Regions from separate parts of the Homo sapiens genome. Here region 1 is linked to region 2. Evidence: fine-mapped expression QTL. A gene starts in region 2. The other region holds a variant in brackets. All regions are shown on one strand. Distances are from middle to middle.

The links. PIP is the estimated chance that this variant, and not a neighbour inherited with it, causes the effect. A credible set is the group of variants that fine-mapping cannot tell apart.
Region 1: its variant is the best candidate, but not a certain one, in a credible set for the expression of TNFRSF13C in whole blood (INTERVAL, PIP 0.51).

Annotation. Positions count from the first base shown.
Region 1 is chr22:41,849,607-41,855,118 of GRCh38, forward strand. All of the region lies in intron 1 of SREBF2 (sterol regulatory element binding transcription factor 2), which reads left to right. Among named protein-coding and RNA genes, the nearest start is that of SREBF2-AS1, 18 kb to the left of the region's middle. The variant G/A (reference allele first, on the strand shown) is at 2,643.
Region 2 is chr22:41,924,515-41,929,540 of GRCh38, forward strand. TNFRSF13C (TNF receptor superfamily member 13C) reads right to left here and starts at 2,292. Exons shown (of 3, transcript NM_052945.4): 1 at 2,124-2,292; 2 at 1,587-1,817; 3 at 1-1,040. The coding sequence starts at 2,259. The coding sequence ends at 853. It also overlaps a transcript of CENPM not described here. RefSeq lists enhancers at 519-1,020, 1,021-1,520, 4,078-4,147, 4,291-4,901, 4,902-5,026 and a silencer at 1,613-2,352.

The DNA.
Region 1 (5,512 bases), 75 kb before region 2:
TAAGGGATGTATCTTTTATTAAAATGTATACTTAAAAAGAGAGAGATTGTTCTAGAAAACAGCATCTTGTCAAGGCATATGGTCTCATTTGAAGAATAATTTAATAATTTGGATAGGAAGGTATACTTGTAAAATACAGCCAGTCAAAAATACCTTTTCCCCATTCCCCTTGATGCGTCCATTACATACATGTTCACCCTGAGATTGATCTTCCATCAGCATTGAAATGAACATTGAAAGTAATAAGATGGGCCGGGCTTGGTGACTCACGCCTGTAATCCCAGCACTTTGGGAGGCGGAGGTGGGTGGATCACGAGGTCAGGAGATCGAGACCATCCTGACTAACATGGTGAAACCCCATCTCTGTTAAAAAAATACAAAAAATTAGCCGGGCGTAGTGGCACACACCTGTAGTCCCAGCTACTCGGGAGGCTGAGGCGAGAGAATCGCTTTAACCTGGGAGGCGGAGTTTGCAGTGAGCCGAGATTACCCCACTGCACTCTAGCCTGGGTGACAGAGTGAGACTCCGTCTCAAAAGAAAAAAAGAAAGTAATGAGATGGGGCTGGGCGCCGTGGCTTACGCCTGTAATCCCAGCACTTTGGGAGGCCGAGGCAGGTGGATCACAAGGGCAGGAGATCAAGACCATCCTGGCTAACATGGTGAAACCCTGTCTCTACTAAAAATACCAAAAATTAGCCAGGTGTGGTGGCGGGCACCTGTAGTCCCAGCTACTCAGGAGGGTGAGGCAGGAGAATCACTTCAGAACCAGGGAGGCGGAGGCTGCAGTGAGCCGAGATGGTGCCACTGCACTCCAGCCTGGCAACAGAGCGAGACTCCATCTCAAAAAAAAAAAAAAAGTAATGACATGATTACCTAAGTGCCCCTCCACACAGCCCCAAATCTCCTTTGTTGTCACTCCGAGTCTGTCTTACAGCTTTTCCCCAAGTTGTGATGAGCATAAATGTAAAATCCAAGAAATGTTTATTTTGTAAGGGGAAAAAAGTGTGGGTAGAGGAGAGACTCAGACAAACCTAAATATAGATATAAATTCAAATCTCAGTTCAGCCACTTTGTAGCTTATGTAGGGGGCTTTGGCAAATTATCTAATTTCTTTGAATCTTAGATTCCTCACTTTTTTCTTTCTTTTTGTTTTTTTTGAGATAGCCTCTGTCCCCTGGGCTGGAGTACAGTGGAGAGATCTTGGCTCACTGCAACCTCTGCCTCCAGGGTTCAAGTGATTCTCCTGCCTCAGCCTCCCGAGTAGCTCGGATTACAGGTGCCCACCACCACGCCCAGCTAATTTTTGTATTTTTGGTAGAGATGGGGTTTCACCATGTTGGCCAGGCTGGTCTTGAACTCCTGACCTCAAGTGATCCGCCCACCTCGGCCTCCCAAAGTGCTGGGATTACAGGCGTGAGCCACCAAGCCCGGCCAGTTTCCTCACTTTTAAAACATAATAATATTGGTCTCAGGGTTGATATAACGTACTAAGTGGGTATCAGTGGTAGCTACTTTTATGTTGTCCTCATGGAGGACATGAATGAATTTAATTTCAGTAATATTACCTTCTGTACTGGTAATATTTATTCTGTAAATAAAATATAAATATGCTTTCTACCCAGAAAATAAGTTTATTAGCTTTGTCACTTCATTGGTTTTGTTCTTAAATATCAATAGTGCAACCACTGGCTTTTATTCAAAGGTTTAATTGGAATCTAACCTGGGGATTTTCCCCTTTTTAAATTTATGTTTAAAAAAAAAAACTATGGAAAGTCGGCATGGTCTGGGCTGCTTGGGAGCCTGAGGCAGGAGGATCACTTGAGTCCAGGAATTTGAGACTCTCCTGGGCAACATAGTAAGGCCCTGCTTCTTTTAGTCTTTTTGTTTGTTTGTTTGTTTTTTTGAGATGAAGTCTTGCTCTTGTCCCCCAGTCTGGAGTGCAATGGCGCGATCTCGCCTCACTGCAACCTCCACCTCCCGGGTTCAAGCGATTCTCCTGCCTCAGCCTTCCAAGTAGCTGGGATTACAGGTGCGTACCACCACGCCCAGCTGATTTTTTGTATTTTAAGTAGAGAGAGGGTTTCACCCTGTTGGCCAGGCTGATCTTGAACTCCTGACTGCAGGTGATCCACCCGCCTCGGCCTCCCAAAGTGCTGGTATTACAGGCATGAGCCACCGCACCCAGCCAATAAGGCCTTGCTTCTAAAGACACTTTAAAAAAAAAACAAAGCGGCCGGGCGCGGTGGCTCACGCCTGTAATCCCAGCACTTTGTGGGGCCAAGGGGGGTGGATCACAAGGTCAGGAGATCAAGACCATCCTGGCTAACACGGTGAAACCCCGTCTCTACTAAAAAATACGAAAAATTAGCCGGGCATGGTAGCGGATGCCTGTAGTCTCAGCTACTTGGGAGGCTGAGGCAGGAGAATGGTGTGAACCCGGGAGGTGGAGCTTGCAGTGAGCAGAGATTGTGCCACTGCACTCCAGCCTGGGCGATAGAGAGAGACTCCATCTCAAACAAACAAACAAACAAAAGGCAAACCTATGGGGACCTGGCCTGGGAGTGAAGGAGGGAGGGAGGCAGGGAGGGAGGAAGGAAAAAACCAGAAAAAAAAAGTGAAAAAATTAAATACATTTTATTAT[G/A]TGCTTGATGTATTTTTCTGTGTATTGATATATATCCATCAGTTTGGATTATTCCCATATTTACAATTAAGTAACTGAGTCTCAAGGAAATTAATTAATTTTTCAAAGATAGCACAGTGATTACATTATTGGAGTCACAGCCACTTCTCTTTGAATTTAATCGTGACATCTCCATTCAGTTTGGCCTTGCAAAACGGGCCTTGGTTTAGCTTTTTGACATCTTGCCTTTCTCCTTAAATCTGATCCCTTGTCACTCTTTTTTTATTTTTTTGTTTTTTCCTCTCCTGACTTTCATCTGAAACCCTGAACCCTACAGGCCATGGGAGATGACCTGTTTCCCAGTTTTGGTCACTTTTTGGGCCATATTTATAACCAAAACTCTTATTTAACCAGTTTTCAGAAAATTCTCAGCTTCTTCATCAATTGATGAAGTTATCTGACTGACTTTTTATTCCAGCCATTCTCATACTCTCAGAATGATTTTTTTTTTTTTTTTTTTTTTTTTTTTTTTGTGGTAGATGGAGTTTTGCTCTTTTTGCTCTTTTTGCCTAGGCTGGAGTGCAGTGGCACAGTCTCAGCTCACTGCACCCTCCACCTCCTGGGTTCAGGTGATTCTTCTGCCTCAGCCTCCCAAGTAGCTGCAGGCATGTGCCACCATGCCCAGCTAATTTTTTTATTTTTAGTAGAGACGGGGTTTCACCATGTTGGCCAGGCTTGTCTCGAACTCCTGACCTCAAGTGATCCACCCGCCTTGGCGTCCCAAAGTGCTGGGATTACAGGCATGAGCCACTGTGCCCGGCCAGTGATTCTTAATTAGTTCATGATATTTTGGAGTTCTAGGCAGGACAGCAGCCTCTGCCTCCTCAACCCCATGTAAACCAGAATGAGCAACTGCTGGGCTGGAGGAGCTCTCCTTCTTAGAGCATTGTGGGACAACTTGCTATGAGTTCTCCTTCATTTTTTCATTTCACCACCATGAGTTGTAGGGCCCTTTGTGCTTTGGCCCCTAACAACTTGCCCAGTATGGTGCCCTGCCCATCACCCATTGTCTTCAACAACCTATCATGCAGCTCCATGTCTCCCTGCCTTGGCTCTTGAGGTTCCCTGGCCTAGACTGTACTTTGCATCCTGATCAGCCTTCAATCCAACTCCTTCAGGGAACTATTGACTTGCTGGATTCTGTGATTTTGTCATGTTCCCTGTGTCTCTTTGGTGTCTTGCAGATGCACATCTCTGCTGTGACAATCTTCACAAACCATATTGTGATCCTTTCACTAACTCTTTGAGGTCAAGGACTAATTTATTATCTCTGTGCCTGGTACACAGTGGATGCTTAACCCGTTGAAATCCTTCTGTATTTACATACTTACCTCCCTAAAAGTGAAAGCTTTGCAGAAATTACATAGATCTGTCCAGATTTTCCAGGCTAGTCTAACTTTTAAAAATATCTTATTCCATTATGAGGTGAAACATCCCTTCTAGTTTCTGGTTCAGAAAGCATGATCGGTCAGGTGCAGTGGCTCACGCCTGTAATCCCAGCACTTTGGGAGGCCGCGGCAGGTGGATCACAAGGTCAGGAGATCAAGACCATCCTGGCTAACACGGTGAAACCCCGTCTCTACTAAAAATACAAAAAATTAGCTGGGCGTGGTGGCGGGCGCCTGTAGTCCCAGCTACTCGGGAGGCTGAGGCAGGAGAATGGCGTGAACCCGGGAGGCGGAGCTTGCAGTGAGCTGAGATCACGCCACTGCACTCCATCCTGGGCGACAGAGCGAGACTCCATCTCAAAAAAAAAAAAAAAAGAAGAAAGCATGATCACCATTTTTATAAGTTGCATGAAAGTTGCTATTGAGAGCATTTCAGTGAGTCAGTGCCAGTTTTTTTGTTGTTGTTGTTTTGTGTTTTGTGTTTTTTTGTTTTTGTTTTTGTTTTGAGATGGCGTTTCACTCTTGCCACCCAGGCTGGAGTGCAGTGGCGCGATCTCGACTCACTGCAACCCCTGCCTCCCAGGTTCAAGTGATAACTGCCTCAGCCTTCCGAGTAGCTGGGATTACAGGCACCCACCCCCACACTCAGATAATTTTTATATTTTTAGTAGAGATGGGGTTTCACCATGTTGGCCAGGCTAGTCTCGAACTCCTGACCTCAGGTGATCCACCCGCCTCGGCCTCCCAAAGTGCTGAGATTGCAGGGGTGAACCACCATGCCCGGCCTGGCTTTTGTTTTTTAATACCAGTATGCTTGGTGCTTGAAGCGGTACAGGGAAAGGAACATTTTCTCCATGCACTCATAGAACACAAGACATAAGAAAAACATCTTTAAGATTTATTTATTTAGAATCCGGGGGTGGTGGCTCATTCCTATAATCCCAGCACTTTGGGAGGCTGAGGCGGGCAGATCACTTGAGGCCAGGAGTTCAAGACCAGCCTGGCCAACATGGTGAAACCCGGTCTCAACTGAAAATACAAAAATTAGCCGGGTTTGGTGGTACGTGCCTGTAATGCCAGCTACTCAGGAGCCTGAGGCTTGAGAATTGCTTGAACGTGGGAGGCGGAGGTGGAGCCAGAGGCTGCAGTGAGCTGAGATCACACCACTGCACTCCAGCCTGGGCGACAGAGTGAGACTCTGTCTCAAAAAATAATAAAATAAAATTTATTTATTTAGTGACCTTGTCTCACTTTGTTGCCTAGGCCGACCTTGAATTCCTAGGTTCAAGCGATCCTCCCATCTTAGCCTCCCGTGTAGCTGGACCAACAGGCATGTGCAGCATTAAAAAAAAAAAAAAAACTTACTATGTGTAATATAGCAAAGTTTTTTAAAAGTTAAAAACATAGCCTTGAACTAAAACATCATGAGCACATGTCAGAAAT
Region 2 (5,026 bases):
TGGGCAAGGTGGAGCACCTGTAGTCCCACCTACTCAGGAGGCTGAAGCAGAAAGATTGCTTGAGCCCAGGCTGCAATTAGCTGGGGACCCATCGTTGCACTCCAGCCTGCGTGATACAGCAAGACCCTGTCTCAAAAAAAACCAAAACACAAAACAAGGCCGGGCATGGTGGCTCATGCCTGTAATCCCAGCACTTTGGGAGGCCGAGCAGGGCGGATCACGAGGTCAGGAGATCGAGACCATCCTGGCCAACATGGTGAAATCCCGTCTCTACTAAAAATACAAAAATTAGCTGGCTGTGGTGGTGCGTGCCTGTAATCCCAGCTATTCGGGAGGCTGAGGCAGGAGAATCACTTGAACCAAGGAGTCGGAGGTTACAGTGAGGCGAGATCGCGCCACTGTACTCCAGCCTGGCGACAGAGCAAGACTCGTCTCAAAAAAAAAAAAAAAAAAAAAAAAAAAAAATCAAACAAACACAAAAAACCACCCAACTACAAATTAGGCATCCTCCCACTTGGTCTTTTTTCAGATTCATTTTGGCTTAATGGTGCCTTCCCCATTTTAAAAGCGGTCTTTTACTCATAGTGCCCCAGCCTTTTGAAGGCACAGGAACAGGAGCTGGGCTACCACCTTCAAGGGCTGTCAAAGATGGTGAGGTCTGAAGCCAAAGGCAAGCACACCAAACTCCATGGGGGCTGAATGCTGTGGTCTGTAGTGTCTGTGCTTCTGCAGAGTTAGCCTGGTCCCAGAAAGAGGGCATGTGCATGCTGGAGTGAAGAGCTGAATTTGATTTCCAAGCCCCTGGCTGGGGGTCCAGAGGGAGGGCAGGGGCCACCTCCTGCCGGCTCCCTGCTATTGTTGCTCAGGGCCGGCCGTCTTGGTGGTCACCAGTTCAGTGGAGCCCAGCTCTGTGGCTGGCACAGGGACACTGTGGCCAGGTGGGGTGGTTCCTGGGTCTTCCCCAGGAGGAGGCCAGGCAGGAGCTGTGGCATCAGAGATTCCCGGAGACAGAATGATGACCTTGTCCAGGGGCTCTGGGGCTGCAGGCAGAGGGGGTAGAGGCTCCGTACTCAGTCACAGCCTTCCCTCCCTCCCCTAGAAGACTCCTCTGGAGGGGCAGTCCTCCGTCAAATGAAGCCCAATGCAGGGTGGGGAGGGGTGGCACCTGGCTGACCCTGAGTCCAGAGGCCTGGCCAGTGGGGAGCTGGCAGGGCAGGGAGTTGGGGAGCTGGGGCTCAGTCTGGCAAACTCTTCAGGGATTTATGGGGGAACCAAGCTCCGTTAGACTCCCAAAGGGCAGGACAGACTCCTCCCTCAGACGGGGCCCCCTTCCTGCAACCTGTCTCTTCCTCACACTGGGGTCTGTCAGGGCAGAGCTGTTCCTGGCTCCGACCAGGGTCTCAGGGGCAGGACTATGTCTCCCTCCCCAGCCTGAGCTCCTCAGCGCAAACTCTTTTCCACTCTGTCTCCGTTTCCCCTTAAAGCCCTTCTCTCCCCCTCAGGGGCCATGCATCTCCCCCTAGACCGTCCCGACACCCCAGCCCCTGCGCCCCGCTCAGACTGGTTCCCCTACACACGGAACTCACCGTCCTTGTCTCCGTCGGGGGCCTCTGCGGAGGACGCGCCGCGAAGCCGCCGCTGTCGCCGCCTCCAGCTCACCAGACCCACCAGGACCAGCGCCAGGACCAGTGCCAGGCCCAGCAGCGCGGGGGCGCCAAAGAGCAGCCCGGGCAGGGGCAGCGCCGCCTCGCCGGCCCCCGCGCCCACCGACTCCTGCGGCTGCAGCGCCGTCCTGGGCGCAGGGCTGCTGGCCCCGGCTGCTTCGGGAGGGGACAGGGAGGGAGGCCAGGGGGCCGAGGGGAGGGAGGAGCGGGGACGGGGAGGGGCGGAGGGGGGCGAGGCTGGCCGGGGAGGGGAGGGACAGCCGGGGGGCGGTGGACAAGGGGAGGGAGAGAGGCGGCGGTGAGGGCCACGCGGTGATCGCGGGCCCCTCCAGGCCCTGCCCACAGGGTCCTTTCAGCCCTCGGCGCCCCCGGGGGTCGGGGCTCTGCCTGCGCCCTGGCGATCGGGGCCCCGTTCTCCCCGCAGCTGCCGGCGCCGCGCGCCCCGTGGGTCCCCCTTACCCGGTTTCGGCCGCGGCGTGCGCAGGAGCCCGCAGGCCACGCAGTGGCGGACCAGCAGGTCGAAGCACTCGGCCGGGACGCAGGGCGTGGGGGCTGGCGCGTCCCTGCCCCGCAGGCTCCGGGGCCCTCGCCTCATGGTGCCGACGCCGCCGCACAAGCTGCGGGGACTGAGGCTGAGCTGGGCTCCGGGGCCCTCGGGGAGGAAGCGGGGGGCGGGGGGAGCACTCTGCCCTGCCCCGCCCCCGCCTGCTGGGTGGGACCGAGCTCGCCTGGGGCCCCCCTTTCTTTTCTTTTTTTTTTTTTGAGACGGAGTCTCGCTCTGTCGCCCAGGCTGGAGTGCAATGGCGCTATCTCGGCTCACTGCAAGCTCTGCCTCCCGGGTTCAAACAATTCTCTGCCTCAGCCTCCCGAGTAGCTGAGATTGTAGGCGCCCACTGCCACGCCCGGCTAATTTTTGTATTTTTAGTAGAGACGGGGTTTCACCATCTTGGTCAGACTGGTTTTGAACTCCTGACCTCGTGATCCACCTGCCTCGGCCTCCCAAAGTGCTAGGATTACAGGCGTGAGCCACCGCACCCGGCCTGGCCTCTCTTTCTACCTGTGGTTCCCCAATTCAGCCCCTCAACCAGCACCGCCTGGGTGGGCCCTCTGCTGGGTGCTGGGAGGTGTCTGGGGGCAGACCAGAGCCTCCTCTTGGGTAGGGAGGGGGATGGACCCCGCAGCCAGGACACAGACCCTGAGTGGTTCCTCTGCTCCGTCTAGCCAAAGCCTCTCCATGACCCCGAGTGCTCCCCTGCCATCTCCCCCAACCCACCTGTCTCCTCCTCTCTTCCTGCCCTTCCTGGACAGAGCTGGTTGGGGATATCAGACACCTGCTTTTTTTTTTTTTTTTTTTGAAAAAGAGTCTGGCTCTGTGCAGTGGTGCAATCTCGGCTCACTGCAACCTCTGCCTCCCAGATTCAAGCGATTCTCCTGCCTCAGCCTCCCGAGTAACTGGGATTACAGGCATGCACCACCATGCCCGGCTAATTTTTGTATTTTTAGTAGAGGTGGGGTTTCACCATTTGGCCAGGCTGGTCTCGAACTCCTGACCTCAGGTGATCCGCCCTCCTCGGCCTCCCAAAGTGCTGGGATTATAGGTGTGAAGCCACAGTGCCCAGCCTGACATCAGACACTTGTACCAGGCCCAAGTAGCATGTGGGTCTGCCCTGAGGGAATCTCACACTTGTGCTGATGGGGGAAGACAGCCTCGCAGCAAGGGCACCAGCTCACGTCATCCTGGAAGGTGGGCCGGAAGGCTTCATGGAGAGGGCGATGGTGAAGTGTTTGCCAGATGGACTGAGGTCTAGGGAGCAGATGGGGGTGAAGGCCAAAGGGGAGCAAAGGCTTGGAGGCCCAAACAGGAAGTCCAGGGAGTGCTGGGACCGAAAGGCTGGACTGGGGCCTTATCTAGCACATTAGGGAGCTTGGACTGTGGCTGGGGGACACGAGGGAGCCACTGGGGCTTTGTGCAGGGAGGACCCAGGAAGATCTGCCTATGAGTGAGGGAACTGTGACTGCAGTGGAGGGAAGCCCGCCCACACCTGCTCCTTTTCTCCAGGGCTATGTGTCCTCTCCTGCTCACCTCTGTGTCTCACTGCGGGCCCCTCCTGTCTATCTCTGCTCCCCAGTGTTTGGGGTCCCCAACTGTCTGTCACCCGTGTCTCTCTCAGACTGCGTCTCAGAAACACACACAAGCCCCTCCGCCCTCCTGGTCACATGCTACCCCCTCCCCAGGGCCAGGGCTGGAGGGAACTCTGGGAGCTCAGGGCTCAGCAGAGAGCATGGGGTTAAATGCCACACATGCCACCCAGACCCCTAAGCACTCAGGGCTGGGGAAGCACAGTGAGAGGAGAAACTCAGGGGCTGGGGAGGGAGCCTGGGGGCAGAGGGAGACCCTGAGCAGCAGCGAGGGGGAGGCAAACACTCCAGGCGGAGGGCTGCAGGGGCTAAGGCTTGGAGAGATGAAAGGGGAGCCTGAGCTGCTCTGGGGGCAGGCATGGCCACTGCCACAGGGGATGCTGGGAGGGAGGAGGGAGCATCCGGGCTGCGGATGGGCAGGGCACCAGTCCCGGGGCAGTACAGAACCTGGGGGTGTCTGGGTAGGAGGGAGATTCTGAGCTGTACCTGCAAGGGTCCCTCTCTCTGGCACTGTGGCCCACGTCCAGGGCAGGTGGCCCAGGGCAGGGGATGATGCAGCGGCTGGCCATGGAGTGAGGGGAGCAAGGCCGACCCCCAGGTTTCCAGCTTGGGAGACCCTGAAGGTTCACAAAGAACCCCAGTCAGCCAGCCCTGACTGGTGGGCGCTGGCCCACCCTCTCCATCCCCTGTACATGGGCCAGCAGCTCCCAGGCAGGAAGGTGTGGGCGGAGGGGAGCTGCAAAGGAGAAGTGGGGCTGGGGGCAGGTGTGGGTGAGCGTGGGTGTATGGTGATGTGGGGGTGGGGGCAGGTGTGGGTGAGCGTGGGTGTACGGTACAGGGATGGGGGACAGGACCCTGGAGGGGAGCCAGGGCAGGGAAGGCCTCTCTGTGAGGCAGAGAGGTGGGGACAAAGCCAGAAGACTGAGCCATAACCCTGCCACCCACATACACGTCCATCCATGTTGGTGCTGGTATTACCCATTAGTGAGGGCTGCAGAGGCCTGACTGAGTACCAGGCAGCTCATTTAGCCCTTGTGCCAGCCATGTGGGCAGACTGAGGCTTGTGGGAACCCAGGAACGGGGAACCTGTCCCTGGAGAGGGTGGCCCAGTGAGGCCAGAGTCGGGAGAATTTACAGGAGTTAGGAGGAGGGGGTCCGCCTGCCCCAGGTCTGCGTTTCACAGCAGAAGCACTGGCTGCTCTGACCCCCAGCAGAGACTCGAG